Linked DNA regions of Homo sapiens: regions 2, 3 and 4 are each linked to region 1. The links come from fine-mapping of genetic effects on gene expression. A gene starts in region 1. Each other region holds a variant in brackets. All regions are shown on one strand. Distances are between the middles of the regions.

What was found.
Region 2: its variant is fine-mapped to the expression of KNTC1 in cerebellum (GTEx, PIP 0.99).
Region 3: its variant is fine-mapped to the expression of KNTC1 in whole blood (TOPMed, PIP above 0.99).
Region 4: its variant is fine-mapped to the expression of KNTC1 in whole blood (TOPMed, PIP above 0.99).

Annotation. Positions count from the first base shown.
Region 1 is chr12:122,524,988-122,530,229 of GRCh38, reverse strand. It overlaps KNTC1 (kinetochore associated 1), which reads right to left and starts at 2,981. Exons shown (of 64, transcript NM_014708.6): 1 at 2,879-2,981; 2 at 38-239. The coding sequence starts at 166. RSRC2 (arginine and serine rich coiled-coil 2) reads left to right here and starts at 3,294. Exons shown (of 10, transcript NM_023012.6): 1 at 3,294-3,382. The coding sequence starts at 3,377. RefSeq lists enhancers at 948-1,047, 3,155-3,614.
Region 2 is chr12:122,365,449-122,370,448 of GRCh38, reverse strand. All of the region lies in intron 3 of CLIP1 (CAP-Gly domain containing linker protein 1), which reads left to right. It also overlaps the pseudogene RPL21P1. Among named protein-coding and RNA genes, the nearest start is that of CLIP1-AS1, 28 kb to the left of the region's middle. The variant AGT/T (reference allele first, on the strand shown) is at 1,981.
Region 3 is chr12:122,230,885-122,236,148 of GRCh38, reverse strand. It overlaps VPS33A (VPS33A core subunit of CORVET and HOPS complexes), which reads left to right. Exons shown (of 13, transcript NM_022916.6): 11 at 226-363; 12 at 3,181-3,349; 13 at 3,722-5,264. The coding sequence ends at 3,903. Among named protein-coding and RNA genes, the nearest start is that of DIABLO, 7.5 kb to the right of the region's middle. The variant A/G (reference allele first, on the strand shown) is at 2,375.
Region 4 is chr12:122,600,977-122,605,976 of GRCh38, reverse strand. It overlaps KNTC1 (kinetochore associated 1), which reads right to left. Exons shown (of 64, transcript NM_014708.6): 45 at 4,352-4,441; 46 at 3,237-3,408; 47 at 3,090-3,148; 48 at 2,734-2,950; 49 at 1,340-1,413; 50 at 890-1,100; 51 at 562-671. Among named protein-coding and RNA genes, the nearest start is that of KNTC1, 76 kb to the right of the region's middle. The variant A/G (reference allele first, on the strand shown) is at 2,331.

The DNA.
Region 1 (5,242 bases):
ATTCTGTGAATGAAACAGTCAGTGTAATAATCACTACCTTTTCAGAAGAGATCTTCACTAGCAAATCTACTTGATATAAAGCAGTTCCATGTTCTTTTCTTGAACCGACACTCAGGTACCCACTTCCGGTATCATCATTTGTTAGCAGCTCAATATCATTCCACATGTTTCTGAGACTGTCTTCCTGAGTCAGGAACCACTGTCTTTCCTGAACAACATAAAATTAGACACCATATTATCTTGTTGCATAGAACCTGGTTCCTTGGGAAATGATAAAGCTTACTCACAAAACAAAAACAAAAGTCTAACATTAACATATACAGACATCTTAGTCTTCTTGTTATTGCTGTGGCCACTAAACACTTCGGGCCAATAACATAAATGGAACTAGAGCTATGATGGTTACCAGAGAACAACATATTGGTTTATGCACACAAACCAACAATTCTGATCTTACCAATGTATCTTAGAGCTTCCATTACTTTGTGTGTCTAGTTTGGAATTATACCAAGTTTTCATTAGAAATAAACCTTTAATTATACCAAGTTTTCATTAGAAATAAACCTTTCATTAGAAATAAACCTTTAATAGCAGCAAACAGTGTAGGTTTAGATGCCAGATTGTCAGGGATATCATAGGATGATAAGATTCCAGATGAAGTTCAGAAAAAGTCCATTGATGCTATCATAGTATTATTATACAACAAATAAAAATGATAAGGGGAGGAGAAAAAAATGAATTAGGTTTCTGGATCAAAGACTAAGCTTGAAACCTTATGAGGTTTACCCATCTCAAAAAGCAAAGGTTTACATAAACCATATTACCTGGAGTCTGGGTGGGAAAAGAACACTAAGGATAAAAACAATCCTTGGATCAAGACTGGTAGGGAATGATAATCAAATAATTACAATTGGTTTCATAAGTGCTACTAGAAGTATGTTTCAATATCTATAAAAGGTATAGCACAAGGTAGAAACAATTTCTGACTTGGTGCTCTTTCACAATGACTAGGCAGCTGTCCTTGGGTGATCACTTAATCTTTCTGTTCCTCAATTCTCTAATTTATAAAATAGGAATATACAGACCAGGCCGGCGCGGTGGCTCACACCTGTAATCCCAGAACTTTGGGAGGCTTAGGCAGGTGGATTATCTGAGGTCAGGAGTTTGAGACCAGCCTGGCCAACATGACGAAACCCCCTCTCTACTAAAAACACAAAAAATTAGCCGGGCGTGGTGGTGTGCGCCTGTAATCCCAGCTACTCAGGAGGCTGAGGCTGTAGAATTGCTTGAACCCGGGAGGCGGAGGTTGCAGTAAGTCGAGATCGTGCCACTTGCACTCCAGCTTGGGCAACAAGAGTGAAACTCCGTCTTGGAAAAAAAATATATATATACAGTTTGCCGTCAATATCCATGTGTTCCACATCCCTAGATTGCACCTACAGGCATAGCACATTTACACTGTTACGCAAGATAAGAAATCAAGAGATGATTTAAAGTATACAGGCAGATGTTCCTAGGCTACATGCAAATACTATGCCATTTAATGACAGGGACTTAAGCATCCTAGGGTTTTGGTATCTGTGGGAGGTCCTGGAACCAATCTCCCATGGATACCAATACCAAGGGACTAATTTAGTTGTACCCACCTGAAGGAGTTTTCTATTTTTCACTTCTGGTTTTTTGAGAGACGAGGGTCTCACTATTTTGCCCTGGCTGGCCTTGATCTCCTGGGCTCAAGCAATCCTTCTGCTTCAGCCTCCAAATGTTTTGAGTTTTAAATGTTCACAGAACAATGCTTGGTTGATGGCAAACATTCAATTTTAGGTGTTAGCTAATTTGTTATTGGGCTGAGAATTGAAGATCATAGTTTTATAAATGTTTAAAGAGTTCTTCCTAAGAGCATAAGCAAGGGAACAGAAACAAAACATGTTTGGAGAATAGAGAAGTTTCAGTGGCTGGTGTTTGGGTGGGAGTGAGGAGATGAAGAAGGAGGGACAGGTTGGAATGAATACCTTTATGGGTCTCAATTTCCCACATCTGTGAAATAGAGAAACCGCCCGTAACTGCCATATTTACTTATTCAACAAATGTTTATTGAATACCTATTTACTATGTGCCAGACACCTTTCTAGGAACTGGGAATATAGCTTGAACAGAACACAAAATGTCTTTGCCATTATGAAGTTTATGTTTTTGCGGGAAAAACGGACAAAAATAAAATTGTTAATACGTATCTTGTTATGCTACCTCCACAAAAAAGCAACTGCACAAATAATTACAAAAAGTGCTAAATGATTTGAAGGAAACAGTGATTAAATGGATAAGGTGAGGCGTCGCTGAAGAAGGATTTGTTTGGGAAGGGAAGGAGGTGACATCTGAGCTGAGACCTGAATAACAAGAAGTACGCAAAACTTAGGCGGAACGCGACGTAGGCAGAGGGAACAGAGTGCAAAGACTCGGAGGCTGGGTAGGAAGCGTTTGATGCTGCTGCCGGGTCAAAGCAAAAGCAGAAGACAGTGAGGGAGAGAGCAGTGGAGTCCAATAAAACCTCGACCTCAAGATTGAATTTTATTCTCAGTACAAGGGGTAGAAGGGGAACTCAGCAAACGAGTGGTCTGATTTTATAATTTTGAGATCACTCTGGCGGCGGAATGCAGAACAGATTCGCGAATACGAGAGAATGAGCAAGATGAAACACTTGTCAGTTAGGCCTCCATACTTAAACGCTCTCCGCTGGACATCGCCGCCAGCAAAAACCGACTCCAACCTCTCTCCTGCCAGCGTCAAGGGGAAAACAACAGGAACTGAGCAGAGGCTGCAGCTACTTCGTCCTGAACCCACCCCCAGTTCCCTACACAGCGCAGCTCCCCGTCCTCACCTGCAATTGAAGAAACTAAAGAGGAACACTCAGATATCTGGCCCCTCTTCCTGACTCACACAACCGCCTCTAGTCTTTAGGTTCCATGCCACAGGCTTAAATTGGCGGGAGAACACTAAACCCAACCCCTTTACGGCGGCCGGAAGAGACCAAGATTACTTTAGACTCGAAATAGGAAGTTGCCCCACCCTGAGTTCCGCCCATTCCGTTCTCCCGACTGCGCATTCCGGGGGTGTATTCTTGGCCCCGCCCTCTTCACGGTCTTTACACTCCCCTATGAAAGAACACCCAATCACCGCCTCGAATTGCGTTGTTATAGAAACTTTTGTTACCGCCCCTTTTTCTCCCAGCAAGCTGTGCGACGCGCCGGGCCTCCTCGCCTTTGTGCCATCCGGGTCTCTCGCGCGAGCGATTTAGTCTGAGGCGAAGCTTCGGAGCGGCCGGTACTGTTGAAAGCGACAAGTGGAGGCGCCGCTCTAGCGGCCGGGACTCTGAACTATGGCGGTAGGTACCGAATCTGAGTTTAAAGCCAGGGATATTTTTCTGCTACGTTCCAACAGTGGGTGAACGGCTCCCAGAACCTTGTTCGTGTGTATGTGTGTAGACAAAATGGCGCCGCGGCCTTCTTCTGCGCCCGCCATCATGGCTGCCTGCTGTAGGGAGGGGGAAGTAAGGCGGTGTTGGTGGGGGTGGGGAGCCGCAGGGAGTGCCTTTTTTTTTCCAGAACTTTCCTCCTCTCTTCCCCAACCCTACGTTCCTTTCGCCTCACTGAACTTCCTCCATTTTCGCTTATTCACCCTGGCTAGTGATTTATTCTAAGTTTTTTTTAGGGCCTGAGAATTTGCGGTGGAGAAAGGGGCTGGGGAAGAGAAAGACGATCAGGAGTGGTCTCTGAAAAGTATTGGGTCAAAAAGGCAGTGTCTGTAAAGGGTAGTGTGGGAGAAGAGAGCGACTTGTAGCTATTTTTTTTTTTGTACGCTCAATGAGATGCTTCTAGTTGCATAATTTCAATTAGTGTTCGTCCGTGTAAACCTTATTATTGTGTATTAACGAGCTAGGAAGGTATTGCTGAAAGGGAGTGAAAATTCAACTTAAAAGGTTGTGGAACTACCAATTCTGACTGATGCGCGGTTTCCGAAGTGGCCCGTGATGTAATCAATTTGAAGTCCGAGAAGCGTTACAGTTAAGTCTTGTCACTGACCTTGTTCCTTTAAATTTAAACCCTTCGTTGGCCGGGCGCGGTGGCTCACGCCTGTAATCCCAGCACTTTGGGAGGCCGAGGCGGGCGGATCACGAGGTCAGGAGATCGAGACCATCCCGGCTAAAACGGTGAAACCCTGTCTCTACTAAAAATACAAAAAAATTAGCCGGGCGTAGTGGCGGACGCCTGTAGTCCCAGCTACTTGGGAGGCTGAGGCAGGAGAATGGCGTGAACCCGGGAGGCGGAGCTTGCAGTGAACCGAGATCCCGCCACTGCACTCCAGCCTGGGTGACAGAGCGAGACTCCGTCTCAAAAAAAAAAAAAAAAAAAAAAAAAAAAAAAAAAAAAACTCTTCGTTGACCCCAGAGGAGCTACAGTTCGTAAATTATCTATTCTGAACAATAAGCCTGCGTGTGTATAAGATACCCAATTCTGACGGATCCACATTATTTTGTGCTTACCTCATTTTTATTCCGTTAAAAGGAAAATGTAAAGATTTTGCATTCCTTTTTACTGACTAAAAAATTACATCATTTTCGATAATAATTATGACTCTTAAACATAGTGATAGTTTTAAAGTTTGCTCTTCCTAACGATTGGAATGCCTGGGATTAGGCAGATGATTTTCTTTTTCCCCCATACCCCTCTATTATTTAGGTGATTGAGTTTAAACCCGTTTCTTTTACTGTCTTCCTTTGTTTAGTGTTTTGGGCCTCAGTATACTTAAAGAGTAATACTATTTTTCTTGGGTTGCAGGTTTTTTTGTATTTTTTCGAGACGGAGTTTTGCTCTTGTCGCCCAGGCTGGAGTGCGATGGCGCGATCTTGGCTCACTGCAACCTCCGCCTCCCGGGTTCAAGCGATTCTCCTGCCTCAGACTCCCGAGTAGCTGGGATTACAGGCGCCCACCACCACACCCGGCTAATTTTTTTATATTTTTGGTAGAGACGGGGTTTCACCACGTCGGCCAGGCTGGTCTCGAACTCCTGACCTCAGATGATCCACCCGCCTCGGCCTCCCAAAGTGCTGGGATTACAGGAGTGAGCCACCGCGCCCGGCCGGGTTCTAGTATTTTAAAAAGTGAATTTAAACATTTATTTATGCCGTGCCTTGTTCAATAAAAAGACAGTCCCCTAGAGAAGTGACCTAGTATTCAATCCAGTG
Region 2 (5,000 bases), 160 kb after region 1:
AATTCATTCAGAAAATATCCTGAGCGTCTGCTATGCACCGGAAGTTGTTCCAGGTGTTGTAGATATGGCACCAACGAAGACCAACACATCGTGATCTAAAGGGGCTCCTCATGGCATTAAAATAAAAATCGAAACTCCTTCCTTGGACTTGCAGTGCCCCTTGTTCTCTGGACCCTGCCCACCCTCCCGACCTCTTGTCCTTCTCACACCCCTTTCTCACTCTGCTTCAGCTACACTGGCCCCTTTGCTGTTTCTTTTCTTTCTTCTTCTTCTTTTTTTTTTTTTTTGAGATAGGTTTTGCTCTGTTGCCCAGGCTGAAGTGCAGCAGCGCCATTTCGGCTCATTGCACCCTCTGCCTACAGGGCTCAAGCAATTGTCGCGCCCCAGCCTCCTGAGTAGCTGGGACTACAGGCGTGAGCCACCACAGCTGGCTAATTTTTGTATTTTTAGTAGAGACAGGGTTTCGCCATGTTGCCCAGGCTGGTCTCGAATTCCTGTCCTCAAATGATCTGTCTGCCTTGGCCTCCCAAAGTGCTGGAATTACAGGTGTGAGCCACCATGCCTGGCCCCCTTTGCTGTTTCTAAACACCCAGACTCATTCCCACTTTAGAATTTGTTGTTTCTTCTGCTTGGGATGTTTTGTGCCCGGTGCCTCGTGGTCACTTAAGTCATGCTCAAGTGTTACCTCCTCAGGCATCCCTTCCTTGGCCACCCCAACTAAAGACACCTTCTATGGCAGTGTCACACTACCCTGTTTTATTTTTTTCATAGCCCTCTTCACCAGTTGAAAATTATCTTTCATTTTTTTACTTGCTTATTGTCCATTTCTCCCTGCCCAGAATTTAACCTCCATGAAAGCACGGAAACTTTCTGTCTCATTCACTGTCACACCCACAACACTTAGGACAGGGCCTGGCACATAGTAGGAGCTCATTAAATAGTGTGGAGAGAATCAGAGGGTTTTGAATACAGTCGTCACTTTATACCCATGAAGGAGAGAGTAAAGTAGGGCAAGCAGAGGTCGACTTAGGACCAGTGAAGATTTTACCCTTCTCTGTAGGAGAGTTGCTGGAAGGTGAACTGGCCCTTCACTGGAGGTAATTATATTACTTGAGGTAATCAAAAGTGGCCAGACGTGGTGGCTCACGTCTGTAATCCTAGCATTTTGGGAGGTCAAGGTGGGTGGAATCAGTTGAGGTCAGGAGTTGGAGACTAGCCTGGCCAACATGGTGAAACCCTGTCTCTACTAAAAATACAAAAATATTAGCCGGGCGTGGTGGCACATGCCTGTAATCCCAGCTGCTTGGGAGGCTGAGGCAGGAAAATCTCTGGAACCCGGGAGGCAGAGGTTGTAGTGAGCTGAGATCATGCCACTGCACTCCAGCCTGGACGACAGAGCGAAACTCCGTCTCAAAAAGAAGGAAAAAAAAAAAAGTACCGTGCTTTGGCTCTTTCATGTCACAGGCAATTAAGTTTTAAGTGAGGCTTACATTTGTATTTGGCAAATACCAGCTAACCATGTTTATTTTATTTTATTTTTTTTTTATTGAAGTGCAGTGGTGTGATCTTGGGTCACTGCAACCTCCACCTCTGGGGTTGAAGTGATTTTCCCGCCTCAACCTCCCGAGTAGCTGGGATTACAGGTGCTTGCCACCATGCCCGACTAATTTTTGTATTTTTAGTAGAGACAGAATTTCAGGCCTGTCTCAAACTCCTGACCTCAAGTGATCTGCCTGCCTCGGCCTCCCAAAGAGCTAGGATTGCAGACATGAGTCACCCCACCTGGCCTCCATGTTTACTTTTTAAAATAAGCTGTTTATCTTGGAATATGGCAGATAAGAAGCCACCTTACAAGACTGCTCACAAAATTCCTGTGAAACAACCCCTCATTACTGCTCTTGAGACATTTTATAGCTTTATGCACTCAGGCACTGTGAGATTAAATGGCTTGCCGAGAACTGGATAATGAAGAGATGAGAG[AGT/T]CCAGAGAGGATTGTTTCTGTTTCCTGTTTGTAGACACCCACTCATTAACCCAACAGGAATTTATCAGTGTTTTTATTTTTTACAGGAGCGTACAGGAAGGGTATTTGTTTCTGTTCCCACAGCATTTTGTAGAAATCTCTTGATGTACTTAACACTTTTTACAGGAATTTCTTGTCTGAATCTTCTTGTCTGTCTCCCTCAATGGCCAACGCTGTATTCTGTTTATCCTTGTTTTTTAAGGATCCAAACACTCAAGAAATATATATTGAATAAATAAATGAGAACTTAAAAATCTGAGGTTTGCTAAAGCATAAAAATAGTATCTAGGGTTTTTTTTGCGTTTCTAGTTTAAATTAATTCTGTCTTCAGTAGTGACTTTTACCACAGTATTAGGAGTTACATGCTAACATTCTGAGAGTAAAGAGAACGAATTGGGCTTGTTTGTGTTTGCCATGGGAATCTATCTTTTAGTTTTTTTGTTTGTTTTTGAGACAGGGTCTCACTGTCTTGTCCAGGCTGGAGTGCAGTGTCATGATCATAGCTCACTTGCAGCCTCAGTAGCTGGGATCACAGGCACATGCCACCATGCCTGGCTAATTTTTAAATTTTTGTAGAGATGGAGTCTCACTGTGTTGCCCAGGCCAGTCTCAAACTCCTGGCCTCAGATGATCCTCCTGCCTTGGCCTCCCAAAATGGTGGGATTACAGGCATGAGCCACTGCACCTGGCCTTGTTTTTTGTTTCAATATTGAAAATGTTTTTCTTTAATAACTTAGATATTTGTCTTAGAACATAGATTTCTTAGATATGATTTGATAATAGTGCCTTCTGTTTATTGTCAATGCATTATTTAATGCTTCTGTTTCCTGTACGTGCATGTACTAGACTTTTCTGCATTGTCTGGAACACATGAGAAATAAAACCTAACTTTGTAAAGTCCCGTTGAAATGCGTAAACACGTTTTTTGATTGTAGAATGATTAAGTAGAAAAACATTTGATGATTTTAGGACTTCACCTGACTTTCTGTCTCCATAGAATAACTACTGATTTTTTACAGGGAAAAGAAAAATACATTTTCTGTTAAATGAGTGAAGAGTTCCATGTTTGGTGGGAGAAAGAATATAAGAAAACTTTTTGTTCTAGGAACTAGTAATCATTCATTTCAGACAAATTTTGTGACATAATTTTTTTTTCAGGATACATGTATATTACCTGCATTTAGAGAAATAGTTGCTAATTTGTTATTTGTGATTACTTTTTACAAAGCTGATCTGAATGAAGCTTGTAGTTTGCTTGGAGAATTGTTGACTATAGCCTATTAGATGCCTCTTGGAAAAGCAATTGTCATGACAGTGACTTCGACTCATCCCCAAAGAATTTAACACATTGTCTGAAGAGGTTGCATCATCTTTAACTAATGTGCTGTGTCCTGCTCACATGATGCTGGCTGGACTGCTGCTCTGAATGGTGTGGTGTGGGAGGAAGGAGAAAATTGAGGCCGACTTTATTTTCTTTTGACTCAACTGCAGTGAGACCAATTTTATATAGGTGATGATTTGTGTGTTAGTACTAACGAGTACTAAAAGGTCAAATGTGTCAAGTCTAGAACTAGTACTCTTTTTTTTGAGACAAGGTCTCACTCTGTCACCCAGGCTGGAGTACATTGGCACAGTCTTGGCTCACTGCAACCTCTGCCTCCTTGGTTCAAGCAACTCTTGTGCCTCAGCCACTTGAGTAGCTGGGATTATAGGCATGTGCCACTGCATCCAGCTAATTTTTGTATCTTTAGTAGAGATGGAGTTTCACCATGTTGGCCAAGCTGGTCTCGAACTCCTGGCCTCAAGTGATCCGCCTGCCTTGGCCTCCCAAAGTGTTGGAATTACAGACCTGAGCCACCGCACCCAGCCTAGGAAGGATAATTTTAATAGTTGTGAAGAAACAGAGAGCCTCACTGTGGAAAATAGCAAGAGTCAATTATTATTTTTTGAAACAGTTTCTTGTTCTATTGCCCAGGCTGTAGTGCAGTGGTGTGATCATGGCTCACTGCAGCCTTGGGGACTCCAGCGATCCTCCCACCTCAGCCTCCCAAAGTGCTGGGATTATAGGTGTGAACTTCCACACTGGGCCAATTATTTTTTGAAGTACTTTTTTTTTTTTTTGAGACAGAGTCTCTCCCTGTCGCCTAGGCTGGAGTGCAGTGGTGTGATCTTGGATCATTGCAACCTCCGCTTCCCGGGTGCAAGTTATTCTTGTGCCTCAGCCTCCCAAGTAGCTGGGACTACAGGCGTGAGCCACCACACCCAGCTGATTTTTGTATTTTTAGTAGAGACAGGTTTTTACCATGTTGGCCAGGCTGCTCTCAAACTCCCAACCTCAGGTGATCCACCCACCTTGGCCTCCCAAAGTGCTGGGAGGCGTGAGCCATCGTGCCTGGCCTATTTACTTTTTTATTTTTTTGAGGTGGAGTCTCACTCTGTCACCCAGGCTGGAGTGCAGTGGTACAACTGTGGCTCACTGCAGCCTCAAACCCTTGGGCTCAAGCAATCCTCCCACCTCAGCTTCCTGAGGAGTGGGACCACAGGCGCACACCACTATGCCCGGCTAATTTTTTTTATTATTTGTACAGACAGGGTCTTCCTTATGTTGTCCAGCCTGGTCTCGAACTCCTGGGCTCGAGCAGTTCTCCTGCCTGGGCCTCCCAAAGTGCTGAGATTACAGGCATGAACCACTGTGCCCAGCCACAAGTTTGTTTTGAAGCAGGAGCAGTTCTTTCTTTTTTTTTTTTTTTAAATAGCCCAGAGGTCCTTTATTTTATTTTATTTTTTAACATCTATTATGCCATGAATTCATAGGGAATAGGTTCCAGCAGCTCAGGCTCCTTCCCATTGGTTCTCACAAAGTGTGCTTCTCTGGGTGGAGCAGGCTGGCGCTTGAGTTGAACCCAGGTCCCTTGCTCTTTGGCTTCTTTCTTTTTCTGATCATTTTCCTTCACGCGTTTCAGGAAGCTATCTTGGCTC
Region 3 (5,264 bases), 290 kb after region 1:
ATTTCTCTTTGAAACAGTGAGCTGAATTAATAGTAACAGGCAAGCAGTTTTAGGACAAGTTTCATCCCTCCACCCTGTCCTCTGTGCCCATCCACTAACATTGCTGGACTTTGGTAACATGTCCTGCAGTACAAACCAAATTGATTTGTTGGAAGTGCCCTTCTTTGAAAATTGCAGAAATCCTTTTCCTGATCTGACATCAAGGCCAAATGACTTCCCTTGCAGACATACGGCTATGAGCACATATTGACCTTACACAACCTGGAGAAGGCCGGCCTGCTGAAACCGCAGACGGGGGGCAGAAACAATTACCCAACTATACGGAAAACATTACGCCTCTGGATGGATGATGTTAATGAGCAAGTAAGCCACACTTCTCCACCTCGTCTCAGCTTAGGGACTGGTTAGATCGTCCAGGTGACAACACATGCTTCTGAACCTACACATCTGCCTTGCTTTCTGAAAACAATTTTCTAATGTTTTTGAAAAAGTAATGTATGCATGTATTGTATCCATCAGAATCCTAGAAGGACACAGAGAATGCTCTTAAACTGGGGAGTTTCTGGAGAGTTTAATAAAGATGTGGGCTGGGCGCGGTGGCTCACACCTATAATCCCAGCACTTTGGGAGGCCGAGGCGGGCAGATCACTTGAGCTCAGGAGTTTGAGAACAGCCTGACTAACATGGGAAACCCCATCTCTACTAAAAATACAAAAATTAGCCCAGCATTGTGGTGCGTGCCTGTAATCCCATCTACTTGGGGGGCTGAGGCAGGAGAATTGCTTGAACCTGGGAGGCGGAGGTTGTAGTGAGCTCAGATCATGCCATTGCACTCCAGCCTGGGCGACAGAGCAAGACTCTGTCTCAAAAAAAAAAAAAAAAAAGTTATGGGGCAGGCTCGGTGGCTCATTCTTGTAATCCCAGTATATTGGGAGGCTGAAGGGTCAGATCGCTTGAGTCCAGGAGTTCGAGACCAGCCTGGGCAACATGGCAAAACCTTGTCTCTACAAAAAAAATGGCCAGTGGTAGTATGAGCCTTTAGTCCGAGGGGCTGTGGTTAGAGGATCACTGAGCCCAGGAGGCGGTTGCAGTGAACCATGTTTGTGCCACTGCACTCCAGGCTGGGCTACACAGTAAGACTCTGTCTCAAATAAATAAAGATGTGGGAAGAGTGGAGAGGCAGTGCAGTGGGGAGCCCTTGCCAGCCACGGCCTGAAGGACAAGGAGAGGGGGGTGTTCTAGAAACTTGTCTTAGAACCTGGAGAGAAGAGCTGTGGTGAGGCCATCTGGTGAGGTAAGGGGTGAGGGGCCTCTGGCTGAGGGTATGGTCAACCTCCAGCAGAGGAAGCTGGCCAGTGACAACGTCATCCTCACACTGCTGCCCACTCTCCAGTTCACTCTGGTGCTTTGTCTTGGTCAGACCCAAAGAGAAGGCATTGGAGTGTGTTGGTGTGGGACGCACAGGTCCATCTCCGGGCACAGAGCATTGCGGAGAAGGGTGGAGAGTGTCTAGAGGAGTCAGTGGAGATGTCCAGCACTCATAAACAAGCCAGCCATGGCCAGGCGCGGTGGCTCACACCTGTAATTCCAGCACTTTGGGAGGCCAAGGCAGGAGGATCACTTGAGGTCAGGAGTTCAAGACCAGCCTGGCCAACATGGTGAAACCCTGTCTCTACTAAAAAATACAAAAGTGATCAGGGCATGGTGGAGCATGCATCTGTAGGCCCAGCTACTGTACTCAGAAGGCTGAGGTGGGAGCCTCCCAGGAGGCTGAGCCTGGGAGGTTGAGGCTACAGTGAGCTGAGATTGCACTGCTGCACTCCAGCATGGGCGACAGAATGAGACCCTATCTCAAAAAGAAAAAGAAAAAGGGAAAAAAAAAGCTATGCAAAAGCAGGGCCATCAGGGCCAAGTGAGTTTCCTTCCACAGTTTCCCCTCAGAGGCAGCCACTGTGGCCAGTTTTTTATCTATCCTTCCAGAAAGATTCTGTGCATATACATTTTTACATAAAGAGTGCATATTCTCTACTGTTGGTCTCCAAAGTGGGGTGCACTTTGCTTTACATTTATTACTTATTCTAATGTTTCTAAATTTCAGTCTTTTTTGGTTTTTCATAAGGAACTTTATTAGGCCGCCTCTTGCAACAAAAGCTCATAACTAGACAGTCTCCTCTGTCAGGAGCAAAATTAAATGATTTTTTCCCGGTGGGAAAATAGAGACCCTTAATGTCTAGAGTCTATCATGTACATATTAGTTCAGCTGTCTTCACTGTTCTGACCTTTCTGACTCTGGACCCACCCACCACTTAACAAAGGATCTTGAAGGGTCTTCTGTGATCTTCCCCTTCTTTTTAATTTTTCTAAATTGCTACAT[A/G]GTGGTTTTGAGGCTATACCTTATTTAATGATTTAACAGATTGCTATTGATAGAAATTCAGGTTGTTTCCAGTCTTTACTGTTACATGCAGTGTTGCAGTTAATACGTTTATACTTTGGTCTATTATCTTTTGTTCTGCAAGCACCTCTGTAGGATTAATGCCTAAAAGTAGAATTGCTAAGTTCAAAGGTTATTGCACATCATTGCTCAGCTAGGGAGTGCCAAGTTCCCCCCAATATGTTTCATGCTGGCTGGACGCGGTGGCTCAGGCCTGTAATCCCAACACTTTGGGAGGCCGAGGCAGGTGGATCACCTGAGGTCAGAAATTCAAGACCAGCCTGGCCAACATGGTGAAACCCTGTCTCTACTAAAAATACAACAATGAGCCAGGAGTGGTGGTGCACACCTGTAATCCCAGCTCTTTGGGAGCCTGAGGCAGGAGAATTGCTTGAACTAGGGAGGCGGAGGTTGCAGTGAGCTGAAATTATGCCACTGCACTCCAGCCTGGGTGACAGAGCCAGACTCTGTCTCAAAAAAAAAAAAAAAGTTTCATGCCAAACCAAATAATTCTTCATCTTCTGTACCTAGAGCTGCTTTGAGTGGCTTTTCAAGATTTCAGTCAAAATTGAAGCTCTGGCTGCTAAAAATTGAGCCCAGCTAGGGTGGATTAGAACAAGGCATGGCAGGGGTGGGGGTTGTATATCTTTAAATCCAAATCAAATAATTTTGGATTACCCAAAAGGCCACAGTCAGGTAGCTCTAAGTCTCTGTATCTATAGGGTTTTTGTTCTTTAATTATCTCACAGAACCCCACGGACATATCGTATGTGTACAGTGGGTATGCCCCGCTCAGTGTGCGGCTGGCCCAGCTGCTTTCCCGGCCTGGCTGGCGGAGCATCGAGGAGGTCCTCCGCATCCTCCCAGGGCCCCACTTTGAGGAGCGGCAGCCACTGCCCACAGGACTGCAGAAGAAACGTAAGTCCCAGTCCAGCATCTACAGATAATTATGTACTGTTAGTGTGGTTTTCAGGTATTGTACAGTTGCTTTGTAAAATAGTAAAGCACTTAGGAGTCAGAATTAAATACACCTCTTTTGTTCGTTGCTAATGTATGTAGTAAGAACTCGAATCGGATTATTCCCTGAGGGATAGCAGCTTTCAACTTCTGTGTTGAGAATCTCAGAAGTTAAAAAAAAATGTTGAGATCAAAATCAGTATTCTTAGGTTTCAGATGAACTGTCTGGATGAAGGCACTTGTTTATTCTTATGAATGATAAAATGTTTGAAGAGGTGGGAAGAGAAGCATTAATAATAAATAGTTTTTAATTCTGAAATGTTTAAATTTTAGGTCAACCGGGAGAAAACCGAGTGACTCTGATATTTTTCCTTGGGGGCGTAACCTTCGCTGAAATTGCTGCCCTGCGATTTCTCTCCCAGTTGGAAGATGGAGGTACAGAATATGTCATTGCCACCACTAAACTAATGAATGGAACCAGTTGGATAGAGGCTCTGATGGAAAAACCTTTCTAGGATGTTCAGAGGAGACTTAACAAGTGTACTGCAGAATAAACTACCTCTTTGAAGAAATTGCTGAAAGGAAGTAAAACCCCATAGAAGAAACATGGGAATACAGAATATATTCTGGGGTCAGCTTCTTAAATTATACTACTGTTTACTGCTTTCTCCGTCTCTTTTGTATTCCCTTTTTTTTTTTCCTTTGAGACGGAGTCTTGCTCTGTCACCCAGACTAGAGTGCAGTGGCACGGTCTCACCTCACTGCAACCTCCACCTCCTAGGTTCAAGCAATTCTCCTGCCTCAGCCTCCTGAGTAGCTGGGACTACAGGCATGCACCACCACACCCGGCTAATTTTTGTATTTTTAGTAGCCATGGTGTTTCACCATGTTGGCCAGGCTGGTCTCAAACTCCTGACCTCAGGTGATCCACCTGCCTCGGCCTCCCACAGTGCTGGGATTACAGGCCTGAGCCACCGTGCCTGGCCCCTAATCTGCTGAAGAAAGAAGAATAGAAGAAAATCAACCTGAGTAAAAGCAGCACTGGTTTTGAGTTTTCTAAGCTCAGGGTCTTCATTAGAGACCTCTGGAAATACATTAAGGATGGTGGGGGTAGATAATCCATTCAGCCAGACAAACGGGGCCAGCTCTTAAAATAAGAAAGCTGAGACTGAGGAGGTGAAACTGAAAATAAAAAGAGAAAGTTCATCCTCTAATCCCCAGTGCTGTATTTCTTCAAGGCGCATCAGGCCTAGGACAGTGGTTAAGTGTTGGGAGCTGGAGATCATTTTATCACTGAGTTGAGATTTCTTTTTCCTGCAGAGTGTGGGAGATTATATTTAGGGTCATCAGTCACTGTCGCAACTGATCACTAAGGCAAGTTTGCTTCCTTCTACTTCTTACAAAGCAAGAGGTTTAGGGGAGCTTCTTGCCCAGAAACAAAGTTTATGCTCTATGTGATCAGCTACATCTCCTTAGGTTCCATACTTATCAGGGGCTTTTGACATGGAAGAATGTGATAATTGGGGAGCAACCTTCTGAGAATTCAGCCTTTGAAGTAATTCAAAGACAGTTTCTTAGCACACACGTTAACTCCAGACACAGCAGTGGTGGGTGCCTCCATTGAGGTTTCCGTTTTCTCTTCTGTCCATCAAGGGCCCAACATCCAACTGGTCCCACAGTGAGCAGGGGCAACTCTTGCTTCTTCAGCATCTGGCCACTTCGTTTCCATGGTAACTGCCACGTGTACTTTTCTAGCAGTCTGTGGCCACTCCGTACTCAGCTGAAAACACTGTTTCAGCCCCCTCTCTGGTGACCTCAGCCTTCTCCAGGTGTATCTCTTGATGATCTTGGAGACCAGCAGCCACAGCTGCTGCTA
Region 4 (5,000 bases), 76 kb before region 1:
CAGCTACTCGGGAGGCTGAGGTGGGGAGGACTGCTTGAGCCTAGGAATTCGAGTCTGCAGTAAGCCATGATTGTGCCATTGCACTTGCCAGGGTGACAGAGCGAAACTCTGTCTTTAAAAAACAAACAAAAGAGGCCAGGTGCAGTGGCTCACGCCTGTAATCCCAGCACTTTGAGAGGCTGAGGCAGGAGGATCACAAGGTCAGGAGTTCGAGGCTAGTCTGACCAACATGGTGAAACCCCGTCTCTACCAAAAATACAAAAATCAGCCGGGTGTGGTAGCAGGCGCCTGTAATCCCAGCTACTCGGGAGGCTGAGGCAGGAGAATCACTTGCACCCAGGAGGCAGAGGTTGCAGTGAGCCGAGACCGCGCCATTACACTCCAGCCTGGGCAACAAGCAAGACTCCATCTCAAAAACAAAACAAACAAAGAAACTTCCTTCTTTGAAGAGTCTGCGCTCCTAATTAGAAGGCTGTATCATGTGGGATAAATATTTAGCCTTTGAGAAGAAGCCATCAGTGCATACTCAACTACAGATACTCTTGGGCAGCAAGTACTTACTTCACCAGGTTTTGTTGAAGGGCATAGCCATTTTTCCAACAACATGTCCCAGACTTTTTCCAAATTAATTTCATTGACTTCGGCTATTTCTTTAGCTGCTGCATGAATATCTAAGATATTCAAAATAAAGAAAAGAAAAACTCAAGTTTTAAATATTTATATTGAATACTTATATGTGTATGTGTATATATGCACATACATACACATATAAGTATATACATATATAAGCATATGTAAGTAATATATATGTACACGTACATATATACATAAAACTGAGAATCAAAATAATAGCTTTTCTTGGACAACAAAAAAATTGTTTTGTCCTCACCAGGATAATCTGTGCCAGATGAATTCTGAATTCTTTGATTGATGCTAGGATGTTCGTAGAGACTGACAATAAGATGTGCTGGCTTTCCGATCACTCTTAAATATTCCTCAGTGTTCAGCTTGTGGGCTATGAGCACAGCTTCTGTGCCCGATCGCCGGTACTGGATATGAAGCTTCTTCAACAAAGCCTCGGCTTTTTCACGTTTTTCGTCCTTTTAAACAATTCCAAGCAAAAAGAAAATCTTACTTTGTAAGCCTCAGTTGAAGCCAAGCATCCATCTTTATCAATCACAATCCCTCCCCCCTTCCTCAGTTATGTTCCTAAGCATCTACATAAAGCCTTGGTCTTCCTTCTCCATTTTAGGCACCAGGGCAGCATGAGAAGGTAAATTAAGCTAGTACAATTTAATTAGGAAGAAGAGAAGCCGCCAATCTGATAGTTCAGACACACCTGCGATGGGATATTCTGTAGCCATCTCTCAGCTAAATAAAGGCAGAATTTCAAAGCAGATATCTTGAAGGAACCTAAAATAAATAAATAAATAAATAAATAAAGATTTACAGGCAAATCTTAATCTTTTCAAGAAAATGTATTTTGGTCAAATTAGCAACTTTTTAAAAATTACAAAAATGCATACTCATGGCTGGGCACAGTGGCTCATATTTGTAATCCCAGCACTTTGGGAGGCCAAGGCAAGTGGATCACCTGAGGTCAGGAGTTTGAGACCACCCTGGCCAACACGGAAGAACCCTGTCTCTACTGAAAATACAAAAATTAGCTGGGCATGGTGGCACATGCCTGTAGTCCCAGCTACTCGAGAGGCTGAGGCAGAGGTTGCAGTGAGCCAAGATCACGCCACTGCACTCCAAACTGGGCGACAGAGCAAGACTCTGTTAAAAAAAAAAAAAAAAAAAAAAAAGCCCACCGGGGCCCTCTCATCAGATTCCATTCCTATTCTCTAAATTCTTATATGCCTTTAGGAGTTTTCTGTGTGTGTGTGTCAGTCTGTGTTCACACATGCATGCATGTGCATCTTAACCCTAATGGGTAATACCATACATATTCTAGTATAATTTGCTGTTCTCACTTCATATCTTGGATATCTCTCCAAATCAGCCCCATAATATTTCGTTCTATGAATACACCCTATTTTCTAACCAGTTCCTGACCTGAGCATTTTTTAAAAAGTCACTTTCAACTTTTGTTACAACCAAAAATGTAGCAGTGAGTGCCTATGCTTGTGCACCTGTTTGGTTATGTGAGACTATCTAAAGATTCCTCATTGAAAGTGCGATTGGGCCAGGTGCAGTGGCTCACGCCTGTAATCCCAGCACTTTGGGAGGCCGAGGCGGGCGGATCACAAGGTCAAGAGATCGAGATCATCCTGGCCAACATGGTGAAACCCCATCTCTACTAAAAATACAAAAATTAGCCGGGCATG[A/G]TGGCGCGCACCTGTAGTCCCAGCTACTCGGGGGACTGAGGCAGGAGAATCACTTGAACCCGGGAGGTGGAGGTTGCGGTGAGCCAAGATCATGCCACTACACTCCAGCCTGGCGACAGAGCAAGACTCCATCTCAAAAAAAAAAAGAAAGTGTGATTGGATATTAAAAGTACCCATCACTGCCTATTCCTAGCAAAGGTCACACCCCAAAGGCGGCACAAGGACAAGTTGGAAATTGCCTGCCTCCCTGCCCATGCCCACTGCCCTTGAGCGTTTCAGCATTCACCACAGTTAAGAGAGCAAGCAAATACATTTGAAAACTACCATCCTGCTTCTCCTTAAAGATGCAAAAAGAGTACTTTTTTTTTTTTTTTAACTACAATTTTAAAAGAAGAGCTCATACCTTCAGGGATATCCTGGGCAAGGCTGATGGCAATAGCTACAGCCCACTCTGGGTTGACTATAGAGAGTAAGCAGGATTCGATGGTCTGCGTGATCTTAGTTATTTCCTTGTTAATCAGTGTTGAGGATTTAGCTTGTGTTAACTTCAGGAGCTTTGGCTTCAGTTTTTTTTCGAAAACGTGTTTTGCTGTAGACACGTACAGAGTGTCCAGAGAGAACTTCAAAGAAAAGGAAGGTTATGGCTGAAGCACATATTCACATATAAGGTTTTACATGAAAGCAGCAGAAAAATCTTCTATACGGGGTCAGAATTAATTGCAGGATACAGAAATGTCTTACAATGTTTTAATCCATTACCTTCATTAATTTCGAAATTAAGAGCAATGTTGGGAAAGATTCTTCACTGAGTTCTGTAGCTAGAAAGGAAACAAGGAAAGTACGATTTGCTTAAGAAAAAAAATTTGGCTATCCAGTAAAATTCATAAAAAGTTAATGAACACATACAGAGAATTTTCCAGAAGTTCTGTGCTGTGCCAAAGAATATCAGGTGAAAAGGCAGTCTAGTTTGGGCAGCTGATGGCAAAGTTATGACATGTTCCAACATATACTGATATTCTAGATCCACGGGAGGAGAAATTCTTCTGTATGACTTCAAATGTTTCAGAATACTCAATGCCTATATTAAAATAAAAAACTTTTGTCCAGTAAGAGTAACCCAATCCTAAACTGTCATAAAATCATCTAATAGTATACCATCAAAAGTTTCCATTCCTGAGACCATCTTGTTTTCAGAAAGAGGATCAAAACCTTTTCTAGTATTCTCTTTAACATTATTCATCTAAACTATAATTTATATACAATGATTAAAGGAATCCTATGAGGAGAAACCACTGGTGCCCTGTTGTTGGTAGATGTTTTGTAAATAAGAGCTTGACAGTTATCTGCTCTTCAAATAATTTGAGATATAATTCAAAATACTTGATTTCATTTTAAATATAGAGGCTACAGATCTAAATTCTCTACGCTCTTATCTTTCCTATGTTTATATTTTATATTAGGACACTTTGTATAATCTTTTGAATTGATATATTTTCTTATATAATAAGTCTTATTAACATAATATTAAAATATTTCTAAAATATTAATTTCTAAAATCAAATTAAAAAGTATAAAAGCCACTATGACCAAAATTCAGAAACGATGAAGAAGTTAATGAAAGTACTGAGACATAATTGAGTAGGTCTTGGACCTACCCATTAATACACAGAGCTGACCTAACTCTCAGTCCCATGGCCTTTTTCACTTCCTACATGGCAAATGTTTCCTTAATTCTTCACAATTAGTTCTGTAGTGACTTCATACTCTTCGACAGCAGGAGAGGTTATTTAAATCACCTCAAAACAGCAAAAAAAGGATGAAGATAAGTGATAAAATAGGAATGTCATGAAAATCTTTTTCTTTTTTTAAAGATTTGTAAAGATTTTTAAAAACCTAAAATAAACCACAGAGTTTAAAGGGAATTCAATGGATAATTTGGAAAGGCCCTGGATAATGATATGATTTATGATCCAAATAAAAGCAGAAAGATGATTTTTACATCTTTGATATATTTGTTATACCTGATTAATATTAATATTGGTTATCTTTTCATCAGCTCGTTCTATAACTTTCAAGACAACTTCAATCATTTCATAGTCATAAGGATCCAACTGTATAAAAACAAAAATATATCAAAACTTGATAAGACTTTGCCATGTTGAAATTTTATTCAATTACAATAATCAGCACAGATTACAAATATAAAAATGTCACTGCACTACATTGTTAAATTAATTACTCCCTTAAAAATGAGCTACAATCGGCCGGGCACGGTGGCTCACGCCTGTAATCCTAGCACTTTGGGAGGCCGAGGCGGGTGGATCACGAGGTCAGGAGATCGAGACCATCCTGGCAAACACGGTGAAACCCCGTCTCTACTAAAAATACAAAAAAAAATTAGCTGGGCGTGGTGGTGGGCGCCTGTAGTCCCAGCTACTCGGGAGGCTGAGGCAGGAGAATGGTGTGAACCCGGGAGGCGGAGCTTGCAGTGAGCTGAGATTGCGCCACTGCACTCCAGCCTGGGTGACAGAGCGAGACTCCATCTCAAAAATAAATAATAAAAATAAAAAAATAAAGAGCTACAATTTTCTCACCTCTAAAATTACCTGTGAGGATAAACATACATGCTAAAAAAAGGTATCAAAGGCTGTTTTTAAAAGCTGCACAAGG